Regions from separate parts of the Homo sapiens genome. Here regions 1, 2 and 3 are each reported to be linked to region 4. The links are microRNA targets in miRTarBase. Many come from high-throughput screens and were not tested one by one. Region 4 holds a microRNA gene; each other region holds the end of a gene's coding sequence.
What was found. The annotated mature microRNA hsa-miR-607 reads GUUCAAAUCCAGAUCUAUAAC and lies in region 4 at 2,048-2,068, shown strand. An mRNA with a match to its seed (bases 2 to 7 or 8) in the 3' UTR can be bound and repressed. Matches are read on the target gene's strand: a 7mer-m8 pairs with bases 2 to 8, a 7mer-A1 pairs with bases 2 to 7 and ends in A, and an 8mer does both.

Region 1 (5,063 bases), not on the chromosome of region 4:
ACAATTTTCTTTTCTTAAGATCTACAACTCTTGAAAAAGAAGTTCCTGTCATCTTCATCCACCCTTTAAACACTGGATTATTCCGGATAAAAATTCAAGGAGCCACTGGAAAATTTAATATGGTCATCCCTCTTGTGGATGGGATGATTGTCAGCAGGCGAGCTCTTGGTAAGGTCTTCATATGTGGCCGAAGAGTTAAATTTTCTTTTTCTTTATCATTTTTATAAACCAAAAAGAAGTAAAAATAAGGAAATGGTGATAATTAATAGCTTCCACATGTAGGAAATGGTATGGCTCTTGTTAAAAAGGGAGCATGTTTCGTTCTTTTTAAATCTGTCCTTAATCTAGTAAGTGTAAGTAAAACCTCACTAACTTCTAGTATTAAAATATTGAAGATAGCTGTTTGTAATCCAGGACAGAAAATAGGTTTTTAGAATAGATTTTGATTCTCCTTTTCCTTGTCATTGTGTGTTTCTTCTGACAGTTTTATCTTAGCACTATGTCTATCTCTCTGGGGATGGGAAGTTTGCAAATTGAATGAAATAGTTTTGAGTATGCGGAGAATAGTTCACCTGAATACTTACAGTTCACCTACGTAAGTGACTAGTTTCTAACGTTTATTTTAAAACTCTCTATTTTCAAGGCTTTCTGGTGAGGCAGACTGTAATTAACATTTGTAGAAGAAAGAGACTGGAAAGTGACTCCTACAGTCCCCCCCATGTCCGCCGGAAACAGAAAATCACCGACATTGTCAACAAGTACCGGAACAAGCAGCTGGAGCCAGAGTTTTATACTTCACTTTTCCAGGAGGTTGGACTCAAGAACTGCAGTTCTTAGACCACTGAATTTCTAAGACTGTTGAACTCCAGTTTGGGAACTATAACACAGCAGAACAGTTTGATAGGTGATCACTGTAAAAATAAAAACAAATCACTCCCAAGAGCTTACTGTTTAATCACCAGAATAGAAGAAACACATTATAACCCATTTGATAGAAGACTTTGGGCTATCTAGTGAAATGGGCTCCCAGACACAATCACACTCCTGCTGATAATGATGATATACATTTTAGCCATAAACTTTCTTTTAAAAGTGACAATTTTAGTTAAACATAAGCCTTTTGAGGAGAAAGGCTTTTATGCATCTCAGTTAAACACGTGCATTGGTAGTATCAACAAATTTGCAATATAGAAGTTGAAGATAGTTTTTTACCTCACTTTTTAGGAGGTTGTATTCAAAATTAAAATCTCAGAATCTTACAGGACATTTAAAGACTCATGTTGATAGCATGGAGGAGAAGGAAAGAAGTCACAGCCTTCTACTCAGTTGTAGGTCTTCTTGTCATCCAGCTGTCACACTGACAAAAAGAAAAGATGATACATGTTTTTTGCTCAGATAAGAAGCCTGACATTAAAAGATGTCATATTTTTTTCTCCACATTTCAAAAAGTTGTCCTTCTCATCACTGCACAGATCTGTCTGAAAGCCTCAGTTTCTGAGTGACCCAGGAACAGATCAGAAATGGAGCATGGCCTTGTCCTTTAATGGGGATGCAAATAAAGTTTGTGGGGTTAAAAGTTATAAGACAGCAGTGATACCCCACTCTCTCCATTATTGTCCAGCGGGGTGACATAATGACAGGTTAAATATTTGTGATTCATTGATTAAATATTATTTAAAGAAATGTAAATTCACAATAAGGGTTGAAAATTATTTGGTTTCATCCATTGTCTCTTATTTCAGGACCAAGCAGCAAACTGCAGTAGTTTGTGAAGGATTCTAATATGGGGTTCAGGAATAGCCTCTCAACGCTACTAATTCAGATCTCTCCCAGAGAACTACTGGATTTCCTCATAATTGACAAACATGAGTGACCACCTCTTTGGGTGGCTACTGTTAGAAATGGCTGTTGTCATGTTTTCTGGACTTTGCCAGCCAACAGATCCCTGCCAGGTTTTGGAAATACTTCTATTACCTCGCTGCTACTTTTCTGCAGGGATAAAACTTTTGAGGTGGCCAGACCCAGAACATCCAAGGATTCCTGTTACAGTGCTACAGTATACACTGCTCATTTATCCTATTCTCATGTGCTTTCTTCTTTAGTAAGATTATTTTAAGAAAATAAGTGATATTTAAAGTCCAAAGAGGAATGATCACAGTTGTATAAGGGGTGTTTTCCCACTTGAACTCTGATGTCAGTCGACTGTGGGTCAGAGCTACAACCATCTGTTTGGTTTGATGTTTTGGTGGTTTACTTACGGAGTGGGGATAGTGTGAGACCTAATTCCCTGTGCAAATGTCTCTTATTCCAGAAATGTGCATTTTGTCATCTATAAGCAAGAAATATGGGCATAGCAGCTCTTGGTTTAAAGTTTGCCATAACCTGTTCATGTTTGTTTTAAGCTCAGGTAAAGATAACCTCCTCTTTCTATGACTCCAGTTTCCATTCAGGTTATAGTATTATTCAATAGTTGATTTTCTTTTTAAGCTGGGCAATAAATTGATGTTTCCAGATGGTAACATGGGAGAGGGCATATAGGATAAAGATGAGCAAATTCTACCCTAAAAATGTTCTAGTAGTTCACAGGAAGAAGATGAGGTTTAATAACTTTCAAGGTAATTCTAGATTGACATTTTGAGGGGAAAATGGGCTCTTGTTCTAGTTGAAGTGAGCAGAGAAGGCTATAAATTAATATGTAACTTACAGCATTCCAGAGGTTAAAAATAACTGATGCAGATGTACTTCTTCAGTGTGATTCTTCAGATCAAACTTTTACTTTTGGCATAGTTAATTTCAGAAAAATGTGCTGTATGTGTGTGTGTATGAGGGTTGGTCTTGCTGATCCTTCAGTTAGCTCTAAATTCTGGCAACTCCTTGTAATTCCAATGTATTTGATACATGAACAATCATGTTGAATGCATTTGTGATCTGGGAGACTTCCTCGTCTTCCAGGGAAGGAAGGATGTGCAGCCCCTGAAGGCATGAAACTCCCAGTGTGTACGGAGCCAGTGGAATATGGGATACCCATACCTTACCAGGCGCTGGTTCCTTCTGCTCACAATAACATCTGCCCAAAGAGGGAGTGGGAAGAACGCTTAGCTCTTTCACTAGTATGGATTTGAGTTCATGGTCACTATTTTTACCCACCTGCCTTTGTTAAAAATCACTTTGAGTAGAATAGCACTGGAGGAACATATTTAGCACCTAATATTAATATTTAGTAGTCCATTGATAAATTTGCCAGCATATGTTCTAGCCTCTGGGGGGAAACCAGGACCACTTTTGTCTGTGGCTTAAACAGTTCAGTTGCTATATCTGTTGGGTATGCCGGGGGTGGATGAGTGTGGCATTCCGTGAAGAGGAAGGTGGTAAGTAAGGTTTCCCTTCTACTGCCTTCTTAAGTTGCAGGAGGGAGCTTTTCTCCTCCCCTCTGGTTGGGAGCACTGAGGACAGTGAGGAGGGCTTTTACCTTGTTAATCCTTTCCTTATTTAGCTAGCTTTCCTTTTTGTCTAGGGCTTCCTCTTGAGACCCTCTTCCATCCATTGGGCCTTTGAAAGGACTAATCAGACACACACACACACACACACACACACACACACACTCGCATACTCATGCACATTTTCCTTCATTTCCAGATCCTTTATTTCAGAGCAGCCCATTTTCCTCTGGATTCATTGATGAATACAAGTACCCACACCTTTGGCCAGTAATGTCAGTTACCTGCTGCAGGTTCTGTGTATGAGGCCTTCATGAACGGTTACCTTCTCCATACACTAGGGAAGCATTTGTCAGACTCTGCAGACTGGGTTCTAGAGAGGCAGAGTCTTTAAGAGTATTCATTTCTTCTGGAAGGTGGAGCTTTACCCAAAGTGGAAGTTAGCCTTGCTCAAAGATGTGTTTTGTGGTAGGTGGTAAAAATAAATAAATAAATAAATAATAAAAAAAGAAACATGTATTGGAGGTAATTTGACACTGCTGCTGGCAGTAGTTCTCTATTCACCATTTTAAAGCCCATTCAGGTTCTCTCTTCCTGAAAAGAACTGATTGCTGTGTTTACATGAAATGACATTGGAGTCAGATGGTCTGTTTTAAAGATTTCCATGACAGCCTCTTTTCCTGAGTTGGAGAGATTGGAGGTGGTCTATCCGTACGATGTGGAATCAAACGGTGGGTTTCTTAGTAGCTAAAGAAGCCATGTACTTCTAGTGTGTTTCTCAGAATATCAACTCATGTTCTTCAGATGCTTTTCTTTTTTTAATGGTGAGGGAAAAGGTATAATTTGGGATTCCACAGTGCCTTGCATATAGTAGGCGCCCAGTAAATACTTGTTGAAGCAAACCAAGTTTCCCAAGTCCTCATCTCTTATAGTGACCAAGACATCTTTCTCCTCTGAAGGGCTTGGCAGTTGTGGCTAAAAAATAAGCAGTATCATTATTTGCTTGAAATCATATATACAGTTTGTATGAATTTCAGTATGTTGCCAAGACATGATTTTTTCTTATTGTATTTTCTGTAAATATTTCTGGCACTGAACTGTAAAGTAAAGGCAAAGTGTAAATATGAAGGCGTGCCCGTGCCCCTTGCCTCCTGTGTTTCATCTTCGTCGGTTAGGGAAGAAGGTCCAGAGGTTTGTTTGTATTTATGCCGATCCTTTGTCCAGAAGAAGCCCATGGAATATTGAATGTAATACATTTAGTCAATTAAATTTTAAGGAGATTCTTATCTAATAACTTTGTGTGTGCTTTTGGATACAGGCTGAGGCTTTACTCCTACACTGGTGCTGTTAATTTTACCCTTTCAGGGGATGTCTGCTCGGCTTTGGCTGCCCTTTATAATTTAGATCTGTAGTTTAAATGAACATTAAATGAGTATTTCATGAAATACTCAAAGTTTGATTAATTTTAAGAAAAGTATTTGGCCTTCTCTGCTGGAAGGAGCTTGTATAATTAAAACACTGCCAATAGAGGCTCACCTTTCAGGGGCTGCGAATTGCTGAGGAGATAGATGCTTATGTTACGGGAGCAAGAAAGTGCCAGCTGTGCCCTCTGCTTGCAGAAAATTT
Region 2 (5,063 bases), not on the chromosome of region 4:
GATCTTAATAAAATGAATATGGGAGAATACATAAAGATACAAGAAAACATTGGAAACATTGGCAGTGTTCTTCTTCTTCTCTATTTCCAGATGGATTTAGAATACCAGATTTAGAATAGAACAGTTCTGCCTGAACTGTTCTATTGTTCTTCATGGCCAGTAATCCTGAAATGTGAGACCATATTTTTCACAAATAATTCTTGCCCTGAGTTGGCTATGTTTTTACAACTTAAAACATTGTACCTCATTCTCATTCATATGAGTTTGACAAATATGAGTCAGAAAAATATCAGGACTCTGGGGAAATGTAAAGCTGAATGGTGGCCCTGTTTCCCTAACTTGGCACTAACGAGCAGGTGATACCTTCATGGACATGGGCGTTTCTGTAGCCCCCAAAGTGGAATGAGTCACGTGGGCCATGTTTGCATCTGTGTTCTTTCCTCGAATGTTTCCTCTCCTGAGCAGTGGGATCCTTTTATTGAATCCAATTCATTGACTGGTAACATGTTACCTGGTGAGAATTAGGATATTTTCATCTTGTGATATTTTAAAGAAATTATCTTTATTTTTATTTGTTCATCTAGACATGCCAATGGCTACTTAGGCCACATTTTGAGCAAAACTCACAAGGTAGTTCTTTTTTTTTTTTTTTTTTTTTTCAAACCTCACATGTGTATACAAAATGACACAGTTTAAAGGATTTGTTTAAAAGAACAAAGCATGAGAAATACAGTGAGATACAAGCTCATAACCAAACCTAAATAAGTAAGCAGATCTGATTCAACACGAGAAAAGATTACAAAACAAGACCTAGTTTTGTAGGAAGCACTATCTGAAGACAAAGTTGCAGGACACGCTGCAAGTCCCTTTGCGGGGAGCCATAAGCAGGGAGAAATAACCTGGTTTCTACTTAGCCTAGCAGGGAGTTATGGGTAGGTCAGGGTTTCCTAAATAAGGTCCTGACAATTCATCACTGTTATTAAAAGGAAGAGCAGATTTTTCCTATCAGGCCTGGCAGTGATATGTATTCTCTCTCTGTCTTAATTTAATCTTAACTTTACCGTCAGCTTACTACACACAGTCCTTTGATTCCTTTCTTCTCAAGCAATGAAAGAATTAAACCTGGCAAGTCAACTATTGATGGTCCATGGACAAGGAGAACAAGATTGTAAAGAAAAAATCTGTGGATGATCCAATAGCTGTGGGATTTTTTGTTTGTTTGTTTGAGACGGATTCTAGCTCTGTTGCCAGGCTGGAGTGCAGTGGTGCGATCTCAGTTCACTACAACTTCCACCTCCCAGGTTCAAGCGATTCTCCTGCCTCAGCTTCCTGAGTAGCTGGGATTGCAGGCACGCACTGCCATGCCCAGCTAATTTTTGTATTTTTAGTAGAGACGGGGTTTCACCATGTTGGCCAGAATGGTCTCGATCTCTTGAACTTGTGATCTGCCCAACTTGGCCTCCCAAAGTGCTAGGATTACAGGCGTGAGCCACCGCACCCCGCCAGTGTTTTAACTAGTAATTGGACTCCTATTGAAATATTGCAAGACAGCCACTAATAGCCAAGAAAAAAAGAGACATTTTCACATTCTTTTTCTTTTTACCAACAAATGAGGAACTCAAGAACTCCCCAGTTGAATGAGGGAGGCAGCTGCATCAAGTTTATGCCTCATTTTACTTCAGATTTTTATTGTACTAGTGGCTACATCATGGGCTTACCCATTGGATATTTGGTAGTTTTTTCTCTGTGAGCTCTTCTTCAAGACCTAATTGTAATGTAAACTATCAACTCAGAACTACTAAGAATACCTCCAATCTCATTTATTTAAATTATTATATAATTATAATTTAAACAAAGCCATTTTTTAGTCCCAAGAAACCCCATTAGCTAAAATAGTGTCTTCTTTCCTACCTCTACTTTTCTTGTCCCCAGCAATTGCCTTCCTTGATTTGACCTCATATACATTAAAAATAGACTGTTCAAAAGCCCTATGTGTACCATCAAACCAAAGTAAGACAGGTTTGGAAGTAGGAATACATCTGACATATTCTCTTTTGGAGCCTCACCAAGCTGAGAACTGCAGAATACTAAAGTGATAAAGGAAAATATATCAGTTCACAGTTTTACAGAAAAAAAAATACAAAGCTAGTGTTAACTTTCCACAACCTCCCTTCTTACCCACATCAATAATTTCAACTTACCATCCACCTATTTCATAAGATCTTCACACTTTCTTTAGCACCATCTGATAATCTCTCCTACTTCAATGAAAATACAACCAACTTTCCAAAATTTCCCCTGAACCTTAATTCTGCAAGCCTCAGTCTCCCTATAGGAACTTATTATAGGCCAATCAGTATTTCCTTTGCATGTTAGGAGAAAAATCTCTAAAACAGTTGCACTTAGGAAATAAGTGCTAGCTGTCATTCTATCAGCATGAGGATCAGGTTGATAGTGGCAGAAACAGTCATTCTCCCACTACCACATTGTTTAAAGTAAAAAGAAAGGGGCATCAACAATTTTCATCTAACATTAGTTACGCTGAAACTTCTAAAGAAAAGGTTCAATGCACAGCGTTTAGCAGCCTAGAGAAGAATGCTGTAACAAACTGATTTTACGGCCAGGTGTCTGAGAAAAAATGGCAACGAAATTCCAAGGTGACACTCCAAGCTAGAGACATAATTAACTACAATGACCTGCCAGGAAGGTAAAGTCTGTTATAAAACTGAAATATTTTCTTTACTTAAATAATATGAACTTCAGCTAAACAGTTGGGTAGTTGTTCACATGAGATTAAGGAAAAAGAAAAATCCAGTTACTATCGACACTAAAGAAATGCACACCAACCAAACACCAAAAGTACTTTGGTACTATAGCCATAATAGACAAATGTGTGGCATGGGAGCAGGGAATTCCCTGATGGTTAGATGACAGGGTCATAGAAGGTTTCTGAGACCTGCTATGTCTCCTGTGAGGCTGACGCACCGCCATGATCTGTAACAAGAGTCACATAAACACAAGCTTAGCAGCTGGCTTGTTAAAACATCGCTGTGTTGAAAAGTGACTGATTCAGGCTTGTTGAAGGGTCTCATTAATCTGAGGAAACGATGCTTGGTGCCATAGATTAAACACTATGGTCTCAAGCGGAATGCATGTGAAGTTTCCAAAATGTTTCCTCAAAGACTTTATTCAGTTTTGGTTTGTGACCTTAGCTGGAAAACATACAGATGAACATGGGAAGGCAGTTGAGAAAGACATCTATGAGGATTTAAGTTGGGCAGCTTTCAGAAGATGAAAGATGTTTAAAGTTAAGGCCTTTATCTGCAAACAATAGTATATTAATAAACTCTATACCATATTTACAAATGCATTCTCTTGTATTAAAACTAACAGTATTTTCACAGTGCCATTGTTTATACAGGTAGCAATCCCATAATACTCATGTATTTTGGCATGGGAATCAGTAGCGTTTGGTATTTACAGAAAATGTACATGGGTGAATATAAACATGTCACAGAATCCATAAAAGACAGATTGGCTAATGGTGCAAAGGAATGAACTGTACAGCACCTTCCCTTCGGATTGGATAGGAAACGTGGTTTCTTAAACTGCGAAGATGCCAAGTCTCTGCCCCAAAGTGGCATAATAAAGTCAATAGCAAAACAATGAACCCCCTGTTCAAGTTTGGGTACATTGAATGACCTTAGTCCAAAGTTGCAGATCCATTGTCTAGTGCATAAAATATAAAAGTTAAAAAGATTTATTATTTTTATAATAATATTATTATTAAAATAGAAGGTACTTTCTCTCACACTCTCATTTGTGCTCTTGCACTTAAGACCAATATCCTTGGCGTTGCAAATATGCTGGTGTTTCTGTCACGCAGATCAGCAGTCAGATAGCAAACGCTCAAACGCTCCGGACTTAGGAATTGCTGCCTGTTCCAGTGCGACCCGGAACAAGGCGGACACGGCAGGAGCACCTCATTCTTCCTCCTAGTCTTCTCCTGGAGCAGGGAGAGCCTGCCCGTGGGATCAGCTCCCACGTTACTGAATGGAGTTGCTCATTTCGGCAGCGAATGCTGAGGTGACAAATGGCTTCTGTACATTTGCGAAAAGGAGGGGAGGCAGGTAAGTGGGAGGAAGATGGCGTTCCAAAGAGCCCCAGGACAACACTCAGAAAGTGGCTGGGCTGCTGCGTGAGGGCCCCTCCACGCTGCTTCTGCCCTCTGGGGGCCCTGCCGGAGGAGAGCCGCGTCTAAGTTGGGCCGGCCCCTAGGGGCTGTCGCCTTCCTGCTCCTCGCTCTCAGTCCCTTGGCCTGCGTGGTCGTGGTCAGGCCCGCTGCCACTGCTGCCCCTGCTTCTGTGCTGCCTGGGCAACAGGCTCTTCCACTGGGCCTTGTTGTGTGCGAGGTGGCCCAGCATGTTCTCCGACAGGGTGCTGTTACCCGTGAAATGGGCCCATTCCCGGAAGAGCGGCTCCACGATGTAGCTCATGAAACCTAGAACAGGCAAGTCAAGGCTCAGCATCACAGCGTGGTGAAACCCGCTCCTTACTCCCTCCCGAGCATGACTGGGGACCCACCACGCCCGGCTAATTTTTGTATCTTTAGTAGAGATGGGGTTTCCCCATGTTGGCCAGGTTGGCCTTGAACTCCCGACCTCAAGTGATCCGCCCGCCTCGGCCTCCCAAAGTGCTGGGATTACGGGCCTGAGCCACTGTGCCCGGCCTTACTTAGGTTTTATTGTATTTCCTTGATGTGTACCAGTGAGGAGAAATGGCAAATGTTTTCAGCCTAATAAAAATTTCCAGCTCTGGGGCCAGAAGGGCAAGCAAGATAATGGTGGCTACCCTCAGCCTAGGAGCATAAGATGTGTCACTTTGGGCTTGTCCCTGAATGGCTTTGTGCCTCAGTTTCCTCACTTGCAAAAAGACGCTAAAGAGAATACTAAACTCGTAGGGTTGTTATGACAATTAAATGACTTAATGTATGTACAATGCTTAGAAAACTCTTGGCACATAGTAAACTCCCAGTGAATACTGGCTATTACTTGCAGAGGGAG
Region 3 (5,063 bases), not on the chromosome of region 4:
TTTTTTTTTTTTTTTTTTTTTTGACACTCTTCTTGCCAGGCTGGAGTGCAGTGGCACAATCTCAGCTCACTGCAACCTCCACCTCCTGGGTTCAAGCGATTCTCCTAGCTCAGCCTCCCAAAGTACTGGGATGATAGGTGTCCACTACCACGCCCAGCTAATTTTTTGTATTTTTAGTAGACAGGGTTTCACCATGTTGGCCAGGCTGATCTTGAACTCCTGACCTCAGGTGATCCACCCGCCTCCGCTTCACAAAGTGCTGGGATTACAGGCGTGAGCCACTGCGCACGGCCCCAACACTTTTTTTTTTTTTTTTTTTAATACAGAGTCTTGCTCTTGTCACCCAGGCCGGAGTTCAACGGCACGATCTCGGCTCACTGCAACCTCTGCCTCCTGGGTTCAAGCGATTCTCCTGCCTTAACCTCCCAAGTAGCTGGGATTACTGGCCCCCGCTACCACATCTGGCTAATTTTTGTATTTTTAGTAGAGGCGGGGTTTTGCCATGCTGGCCAGGCTGGTCTCGAACTCCTGACCTTGTGATCCGCCCGCCTTGGCCTCCCAAAGTGCTGGGATTACAGGCGTGAGCCACTGCCCCCGACATCATTTTTTAAGGGAATTATTCTTTCCTCCATTAAATAAGTTTGGCATTCTAGTTGAAAATCAGTTGCCCACAGTGTATCAATTGATTTGTGTTGGTATAACAGAATACCTGAGTCTGGTTAACGTATAAGGAACAAGAACATATTGGTACACAGTTCTGGAGGCTGGGAAGTCCACAACTGAGAGACTGACATCTGGCAAGGGCCTTCTTGTTATGTCATCCCATGGAGGAAAGACAAGAGACAGCAAGTGGGGACAAAACTTGCCCTTTTATCATGACACCAATCCTACTCATGAAAGTGGAGACTTCATGGACATCTTTTTTTTTTTTTTTGAGATAGAGTCTCATTCTGTCTCCCAGGCTGGAGTGCAGTAGCACGATCCTGGCTCACTGCAAACCTCTGCCTCCTGGGTTGGAGCAATTCTCCTGCCTCAGCCTCCCAAGTAGCTGGGATTACAGGTGTGTGCCACTACACCCGGCTAATTTTTGTAATTTTAGTAGAGACGGGGTTTTGCCATGTTGGCCAGGCTGGTATTGAACTCGTGACCTCAGGTGATCCACCCGCCTCGGCCTCCCAGAGTGCTGAGATTACAGGTGTGAGCCACCACGACCAGCCCCTTCATGGCCATTTTAAGGGTCTCAACCTTTCATGCCATTACCATGGCAATTAAATTTCAACATTGAGTTTTGGGTGGGACATTCAACCCATAGCATTTGTGGACTCTCAATTCTCTTCCCACTGATCTGTCTCCATCCCTGTGTTTTTCCTCCTGGTTTTGTTTGTTTTCGACAGGGTCTCTGTCACCCAGGCTGCAATATAGTGGTGCAATCACGGCTGACTGCAGCCTCAAACTCCTGGGCTCAAGCAATCCTCCCAGCTCACCCTCCCAAGTGGCTGGGACTACAGATGTGTGGCACATGCCTAGCTAGAATCATCTCTAGATTAGTCATAATACCTAATACAATGTAAATGCTATCCAAATAGTTGTATATTAACATTTGTATTTTTAAAATTGTTGTATATTTTAAACACTTTCCATCCAGGGTTCGTTGATAAATGGATGCAGAGCCCATGGATACAGAGGGCCAACTGTATCATAAAGACAACACCTTTAAATGTGAAATATATGTGCAAACAGGGAAAACAGAGAAAAAGATGGGGTACATCATAATATAAAGGGCAGATTCATTTAGACATTTAAGTATCTAATTCCTCCAAAAAGGCTAAAAGATACAGTGATGCAGTGCCATTTAATGAGTTTTTTAAGGTTTCAAAATCAAGCTCAAATGCTGTATATTATTGACATTCACCATTATTCAAGAAAACCTTTAATAATATTCTTTATATTATAATGTGATCAAAGAATAAAAAAATTTTCATGAAGGGCTGGTTTACAAAATAGAACTCTGTCTAGGGTCTGAGCCATTTTTCTCATACCCGTCCCATTCTCTCTCTGTAACAGCAGTGGGAGGAGTGACAGAGCTCGCAGGTTAAGACAGACACGCAGGTGTTGGTATCTAATGCACTGAACTGTGGAAGTTATGGGAAGTTGTTTTCTCTTTTTAAAAATAAAATTAGCTGGGCATGGTGACTCATACCTGTAATGTAATGGCAGCACTTGAACAGGCCATGGAGAATCACTTCACCCCAGGAGTTTGGGACTAATCTGGGCAATATACGGAGACCCCATCGCTACAATTTTTTTTTTTTAATTGGCACAGCATAGTGGTGCGTGCCTGTAGTCCCAGCTACTTGGGAGGCTGAGGTCGGAGGACTGCTTGAGCCCAGTAAGCAGAGGAGATTGCAGTGAGCCAAGATCCTGCCATGGTATTCTGGCCTGGGCAACAGAGCAAGATGGGAAAAAAAAAAAAAAAGATATTATCAAAAATTTAATATTTAATGCACACGTTTCCCATGGAAATATGCAGGAGAGGAAAACTGACATTCCAAAATCAGCCTAACTGAAAAAGACCAATTATATGAAGCCTGTGCATGTATGAACAAAGAAAAAGTTAAAGTTTTCTAAGCTCATTCTGCAAAATGTTAGAAATACGAAGACAGAGATCATATAGTGCAGCGGTCCCCAACCTTTTTGGTACCAGGGACCTGTTTCATGGAAGACAATTTTTCCACGGACGGTTTGTGGGGGTAGAAGAATGGGGATGGGATGTTTTCAGGATGAAACTGTTCCACCTCAGATCATCAGGCGTTACATTCTCATAAGAAGCGCACAACCTGGATTCCTCACATGCACAGTTCCCAATAGGGTTCGCGCTCCTATGAGAACTAATGCCACCGCTGATCTGGCAGGAGGTGGAGCTCAGGTGGCAATGCTCGCTCACCCGCCACTCACCTCCTGCCATGCAGCTGGGGGGAGCTGGGGACCCCGATATAGTGTGTATGCCATGTTAAAATAATTAAAACAGATTTGGATTGTGCTGTCCTTTTAAATTTTAATAAAATAGATTAATTTCATATTACATAGAGAGCAAGTCCATCCATTCATCCGTGATAAAATTTTAGAAATATTTTCTATAAAATGTTTAGTATTTAATTGGAAATGAATCCAGTATAACATGACTTCCACAGATACAGCATTCCCATCCTCACTCCCATTCCTATTTTGAGAAATTTTAAAAATACAGAAAAGTACAAAAAATAAGACAAGATATCCCTATACCACAATCCAGAATCAATCAGTATCTTCTTATATTTACTTGAAGTCTTTTGAAAGAGAAGTGGATGTTTATATAAAAAGCTGAAGTCCCCTTTAACCAATACCCATCCCACCTCCCACACTCATTATTTTCCCTTCTCCACTCTTCACAGGTGACCACTATCAAGAGTTTGGTCTGTATCCTTCCAATCCGTTTCAAAAACATGTACATACATATATGCATCCATTACCAATAGATAGTACTGAGTTTTATGAGGAAACTTTTAATTCAAATTTACAAAAAAGTCATTGTACTATCTGTATCATTCTGCAACTTGATCCCCCCTCAACAATTCTGGGATCTTTCTGTTAATACATGTGGATTTCATTTGTTGCATTTTACAGATATATAGTATTACATAAGAATTTCCCATATTGTTCGTGATGGGCTTTCTCAGTTGTTTCTAATTTTTGGCTACTACAAATCAAGCCACAGTAAATATCCTAGTGCGTATTTCCTGAGCATTCATACTCATAAGTAGAACCGCTAAGTATTTCTCAAATTGTTCCAAGGAATGTTTCCCTATTCCCAAGGTCATATGCATTTTAGTACATAGCTTTTCCATATTTCTGTTTTTAATCTCTGGATTCACTTTTGTGTATAGTTCATGGTCTATTTTTCCCCCTTGGAGAACAAACTACCTCCACTTAAAAAAAATAGTTCCATTATTTCCTCATTTCCTGATGCCACTTGTATCATATTCCAAATTCTAATAAATGCATAGGTCTTTTTTTGAAATCTCTTCTGCTCTGCTCAATCAATACCACAGGAGTCTTAATATTAGTTGTAGATGACCATGTCATCTATTTTTGTCTGTTCCTTTCCAATATTTACAACTTAATTTTTCTTGTTACTGGCGAAGATCTCCAGATCTATGGTGGTAGCAATAAAAAACAGGCCTCCATTTTCTGTTCCCACTTTTAGTGAAAATGTGCCTAAACTTTCACCATTATCTCTGCTGCAGGTTTCTCTGTTGGACACAGGGTTTTAATCATATGCATGTCTTTCTCTTCAGTACAAATTTTCTGGTGTCCCTTAAGTTTTTAGTACTTGTTAAAGTTAACCTCATTCGTGGTGCTTTGCTTCAGAAGGATTATTTCTGGGGCATGATGAGGTGCAAATTTCTAATGAAAGCTTTCCCACTTTCAAGGCTTTCATGGGGTTTTTAGTGAGTATGAATTTTCTGGTGTCTAATGTGGTGTGACTTCTGGCTGAAAGCTTTCCCACATTCACTGCACTGATAAGGCTTCTTACCTGTGTGTATTCTCAAATGCAGAGCAAGGGTTGAGAACTGAGAGAAAGCTTTCCCACATTCATTACAACCATAGGGCTTCTCCCCTGTATGGCTTCTCACATGCACAGTGAGAGATGAGCTCTGAGAGAAGGCTTTTCCACAAACATTGCATTCGTAAGGTTTATCACCTGAATGAATCCTCACATGTACAATAAGTGATGTTCGCTGAGAGAAGGCTTTTCCACATTCGTTACATTCATAGGGTTTCTCTCCAGTGTGAATGTTCTGATGTTTTATGAGGTACTTCTTCTGGCCAAAGGCTGTTCCACATTCACTACATTTAAAAGGCTTCTCTCCAATATGGATTTTCTCATGCTCAGTAAGGTTGGATTTGCCACTGAAGGTTTTTCCACACTCCTTACATACAAAGGGCTTCTCTCCTGTGTGAGTTCTCTGGTGTCTGATGAGGTTTGACTTCTGAATGAAAGCTTTCCCGCAATCTTTACACTC
Region 4 (5,063 bases):
TGAAACTTCCTTTTTTCGCCGCTAGGTGGTGGGTGTGAGTCTTTTGCGGCCTTTAAGTTTCTACGGTGTTTGGAGGAAATACGTTTCAGTTTCAAATAAATGAACAACGTGTAACTCTAAGATGAGTAAATAATCAATGTGTTTTCCAACCACCCCAAGTTAATTTGTTTAAAAAACAATCAAACCAAGGGTAATAATTCCTCGACATAATCTCTTAGTCCCAGACATATGGATTCAGAGAATCCTAGAGGCTTCAGAGATCAATTTTGTAACTTAAGATATGAAATTGGAAGCCCAGACAAGTAAGGTGATTTGACCAAGATTACATAGTTGCTGGGTAGAGAAAGGGCAACAAAAGCCAGGAGACAAGTTTCCCAATTTCCAATTTAATGCTAGTTTTACTACTCTACTCTGAGTTCCAATTTCTGCTTCACTTATTTTGAGTTGGGAACTAACTCATGGTTGACCTATCACAAAGACCTATTTGGAAGAAAGGATAGGGAGGCAATAGTAACAGCTAATATTCATTGAGCACCTATTATATGTTTATCATTGTTTCATTCCATCCAGATAATAATGCTATGAGTATATATTTACCACATTTTCCAAGTTAGGGACACAAGACTCAGATGAGTTAAATACATTTGTCAAGATCACATAGCTACCAAATTCTAACTAAGATCTCTGTGACTCTAAACCCCTCTAAATTGTCTTACAAGTAGAAAGTTGGCTTGGCGCGGTGGCTCACGCCTGTAATCTCTGCACTTTGGGAGGCTGAAGTGGGCAGATCACTTGAGGTCAGGAGTTCAAGACCAGCCTGGCCAACATGGTGAAACCCCGTCTCCACTAAAAATACAAAAATTAGCTAGGCATGGTGGTGGGCACCTGTAATCCCAGCTACTCAAGAGGCTGAGGCAGGAGAATCCGTTGAACCCAGGAAGTGGAGGTGGCAGTGAGCCGAGATCGTGCCACTGCACTCCAGCCTGGGCGACAGAGCTGAGACTCCATCTTGATAAATAAATAAATAATAAGTAAATAAATAAATAGTCTTACAAGTAGAAAATAGACTCTGCAACTGGAGGATTCACTTAACTCTACATGACATGTTCCGAGCACAGTTAAGCAGTTGGACATTCTGTGTTCCTATCACATGGCAGGCGGTGTCCCAGGCACCGAGGACATAGATAGATAAGACAGAATTTCTGACCTCTGTTGCTTTGGGCTACTGTTAAAGAGGGCCTTAGCTGTAAACTCTTACATTCTAGGGAGGGGCAGGTAATATAACATGGCAGTTAATAGGGTCTGAAGACAGCTGGGTTGGAATTCTGGCTCCATTTTTCAGTGGCTGTGTGACCTTGACATATTAACTTTTCTGGTCATTAATTTCCTCATGTGAAAAAGAGGATAATAATAGTCTGCAAGATGGGGTTTGTGTGAAAATGAAATGAAACTATTCACGTACAGTGCTAGCACATTCTTAGCATGAAATGAGCATCTGTTCTCTGATTAGGCCTTCCTAAGCTCCTATCTGTTTGCCCAGTCTGCAGGATGATGGGAAACCAAGATGCTTCTGCAGTTTGGAGTTAATCTGTGAGAGTATGAAGGAATGATAGCAATGACCTCAGCCTTTGAAAACAACCTCTGAGCCATGTTCTATAGTTCTCACAATGGCAGAAAAGGAATGTCAGGGAAGGGGAGTAGGACTTGGCTTGTCAGCATTAGATCAACTACTACCTGGTGTCTGATTAAAGATGGCTTGCAACATAGAAATGATCATTGACAAATGGGAGGATGAAATGATTGGGGCCTTCTAAAAAAAGCATGTCCTAATGGGAGGCTTTTTTAAAAAAACATAGTCAACTTCAAATAAATTCCAACAAGCAAGAGATGCTTTTTGAAGCACGTTTCAAAGATTATGTTATTTATTCTTCGCAACAACCCAATCGTGTATCCCATTTTATAACAGAGCACAGAGAGGTTAAGTAACTTGCCTAAAGTCACACAGGTTATAGATCTGGATTGGAACCCAGGGAGCCAGACTGCCTGGGTTCAAATCCAGATCTATAACTTGTGTGACTTTGGGCGAGTTACTTAAAGCCGGCTCTTTAACCATCACACTATTTTTTGCTTCCAGTGCTATTTCGGGGAAATGAGACCTAAGTCAGAGACAAGACCTAGCCAGACAGAAAGGAAGCCATGTCACTTGGTCACACGGCTTTTGGTCTTTTTGAGAAACTACTCATGTAGTGGCTTTTTTTGCTTAATAAAAGACTTTCAGGCCGGGCATGGTGGCTCACGCCTGTAATTTCAGCACTTTGGGAGACCAAGCCGGGAGGATCACTTGAGGTCAGGAGTTCGAGACCAGCCTGGACAGCATGGTGAAACACTGTCTCTACCAAAAATACAAAAAAAATTAGCTGGGTATGGGGTGCACCTGTAATCCCAGCTTCTTTGGAGGCTGAAGCAGGAAAATCACTTGAAGCCGGGAAGCAGAGGTTGCAGTGAGCTGATATCATGCCACTGCACTCCAGCCTGGGCAACAAAGCAAGACCCTGTTTCAATAAATAAATAACTTTCAGAGTTTCTCTCTTTTCAGCCTGTATACCTCTATGCCACTGGCCTAGAAAACATGTATGATTTTACTTTATGTTGTACGTGTGACATTTATTTTTCTTCTGTAGTTTTATTGAGATATATTTCACATACCATAAAATTCGCCCATTTGAAGTGTCCACTTCATCTGAAAGCAGGCAGTGGGAGGAGTGGCATCTCTTGGCTTTTTCCTGGGCTCTTGGCTCTGGGTCTTTGGCGCATGTTTTAGCATGGTAGAAATGTTTGACTGTCCCAGCCGGGTGCTGCCTTTCTGCATAAATGAGATCTTTTCTGCCTGGCAACATGGTTTTACCCTCACATCCAAAAGCTCCTAGTTCCTACACAGCTACTGGCTTGTCTGTTTTGAGGCAGTTCCCTTCTTGGAGGTTTCCTTGATATAGCTATGGGTTTGGGTGTCCACTATCCCCATGCCACTAAGCTTGTTCTAGAGTTCAAGACCCATCAACCCCTGCCCCCCAACCACCACCAACTGCGAAAGATTCCTCTTGGGCTCTTTCCCCATTATCTTTTCATCCTACCAGTCAGAAAGGAGGATCATTATTGGAGATCTACTGTTTACTAATATATTGGATGGAGGTGGTGCCCACCCTCTTGGCAGAGGAAAAGATTACAGCTACTAATGCGTCTGACCCCAGCCTGAACCAGTGTTTTAGTATCAAAGGCAAGTGAGACATAGTGTTGCTGTTCATGACCTTGTCCCCAACACAGCCACCTCTGTTTCACCTGCCTTACGTCCAGAAATGCTTTATCCCTACTGTGGAGCAGCTGACTCTGGGGATCCCATGCCAGAATCATGGGGAGATAGACCATGGCCAGGATATATTTCCAGCAGAGAAGCTCTGTCATCTGCAGGATTGCAAGGTGAACCTTCACAGAGCTGCCTGCGGTGAGTGTATTGTTGCACCCAAGACTTCCAGCTTCCCTTACTGTCAGGGGACCTGCCTGACCCTCAACAGTGAGCTTCATCAATCCAACTTTGCACTCAAAGTTTGCACTATAAGAGGGGAGTGCCTATTGATCTGTTCCTGGCTCTTTCAGACCTGTAGTCCCACCAAGGTCATTCTCTTCTCCCTAACGGTCCAGGATGACGAACGTAAGATGAGCGTTCACTGTGTGAACGCATCCTTGATAGAGAAGTGTGGCTGCTCTTGAGACACCCGGGAGCCTCCTCCTGGCTCCATACCCTCCTAAGTCTCGGGACTCAAGTGGGGGGTGGGATTGGTTCCCATAGCAACTAGAGCTCTTTGAAGGGAGGTAGGATTTGGCTTCTGTTTCTCAAAGCACAGCAAGAAGGATGGAGTTATGGCAGTAACCCCTCTTAGATGCTCCTTTTTGACATGGACAGAGGCTCCCCCAGTGCTGTTCTCAGTAACTCCTATTACTGGGAAGCTGAGCCCATTGAGATGTCTGACTATTGCTCTGTCCTAGATTGTGTGAGTGGGCCAGGCTTAGTGCCACCTCTGGAGTTACTTAGATGGAGAAAGAGGAACTGGAATTGGATGCATGTTAGCCCTCAGTGTAGAGGTAAAATTGTTACTGGTGTTAAACAAGGCTGGCTTTGGACTTTTCCAAGCTCGTTAGCTGCCACTGTCCTTCTCTGTACCATAGGACTGGGGCTGGTCCAGAGCTGGCCTAGGCATGTAAATTCCTCCCTACCTAGCATTCCTGGCCTCTTTGGAGTGAGTGAGGGCTCTGTCCAAGGCAGCATTCTGTCATGGGCTAGTTATGGGCAAAGGGCACCAACGCCTTCCCTACCTAGTGTCAGATGGGAGCCTCTGAGTGAAGAACATTGCTCGACAGATTGTTGATGGAGGGGGCTTCTGGCATCAGAAGTCTTTCTTTCTTTTCTTTTCTTTCTTTCTTCTTTCCTTCTTTCCTTCTTTTCTTTCTTTCTTTCTTTTTTTTTTTTTTTTTGAGACAGAGTCTCACTCTATCACACAGGCTGGAGTGCAGTGGCACAATCTCAGCTTTCTGCAACCTCCACCTCCCGGGTTCAAGCAGTTCTCTTGCCTCACCCTCCCAAGTAGCTGGGATTACAGGCACCCACCACCACGCCCAGCCCGGAAGGTTTTCTTACTATCATTTAAGGAACTTGATGATATTAGCTTTTCTACTATCTTTAGAACTTAGTACCATTACAAAATAATAAAAGAATAAAATGTACACTTCAGGGGGTTTTCGTATATTCACAAAGTTGTGCAACCATCACCACAATCACTTTTAGAACATTTCATCACCCCAGAAAGAAACCCTGAAATATCAGCAGTTATTCATCATTCCCCATCTCCTCACCCGCTGGCAACAACAAATCTAGTTTTTTCTTTTTTTTTTTTTTTTTTTTTTTGAGACAGAGTCTCGCTCTGTCGCCCAGGCTGGAGTGCAGCGATGCAATCTCGGCTCACTGCAAGCTCCGCCTCCCGGGTTCACGCCATTCTCCTGCCTCAGCCTCC

Region 1: miRTarBase lists RALGAPB as a target of hsa-miR-607. Seed matches in the 3' UTR shown: 7mer-A1 at 3,551-3,557.
Region 2: miRTarBase lists PDE7B as a target of hsa-miR-607. Seed matches in the 3' UTR shown: 7mer-A1 at 657-663.
Region 3: the mRNA of ZNF146 is a reported target of hsa-miR-607. Seed matches in the 3' UTR shown: 7mer-m8 at 3,547-3,553 and 7mer-A1 at 3,473-3,479.

What each region holds. Positions count from the first base shown.
Region 1 is chr20:38,574,131-38,579,193 of GRCh38, forward strand. RALGAPB (Ral GTPase activating protein non-catalytic subunit beta) reads left to right here. Exons shown (of 30, transcript NM_020336.4): 29 at 20-168; 30 at 644-4,728. The coding sequence ends at 837. Among named protein-coding and RNA genes, the nearest start is that of ADIG, 4.5 kb to the right of the region's middle. RefSeq lists a silencer at 3,602-3,802.
Region 2 is chr6:136,191,052-136,196,114 of GRCh38, reverse strand. It overlaps PDE7B (phosphodiesterase 7B), which reads right to left. Exons shown (of 13, transcript NM_018945.4): 13 at 541-4,501. The coding sequence ends at 4,275. Among named protein-coding and RNA genes, the nearest start is that of MTFR2, 57 kb to the left of the region's middle.
Region 3 is chr19:36,236,741-36,241,803 of GRCh38, reverse strand. It overlaps ZNF146 (zinc finger protein 146), which reads right to left. Exons shown (of 4, transcript NM_007145.3): 4 at 3,036-5,063. The coding sequence ends at 4,485. It also overlaps a transcript of ZNF565 not described here. Among named protein-coding and RNA genes, the nearest start is that of ZNF146, 24 kb to the right of the region's middle. RefSeq lists a silencer at 720-920.
Region 4 is chr10:96,825,689-96,830,751 of GRCh38, reverse strand. MIR607 (microRNA 607) reads left to right here and starts at 1,988; the gene lies at 1,988-2,083. LOC102723665 (a long non-coding RNA gene) reads left to right here. Exons shown (of 1, transcript NR_135921.1): 1 at 1-120. RefSeq lists a cis regulatory region at 1-106.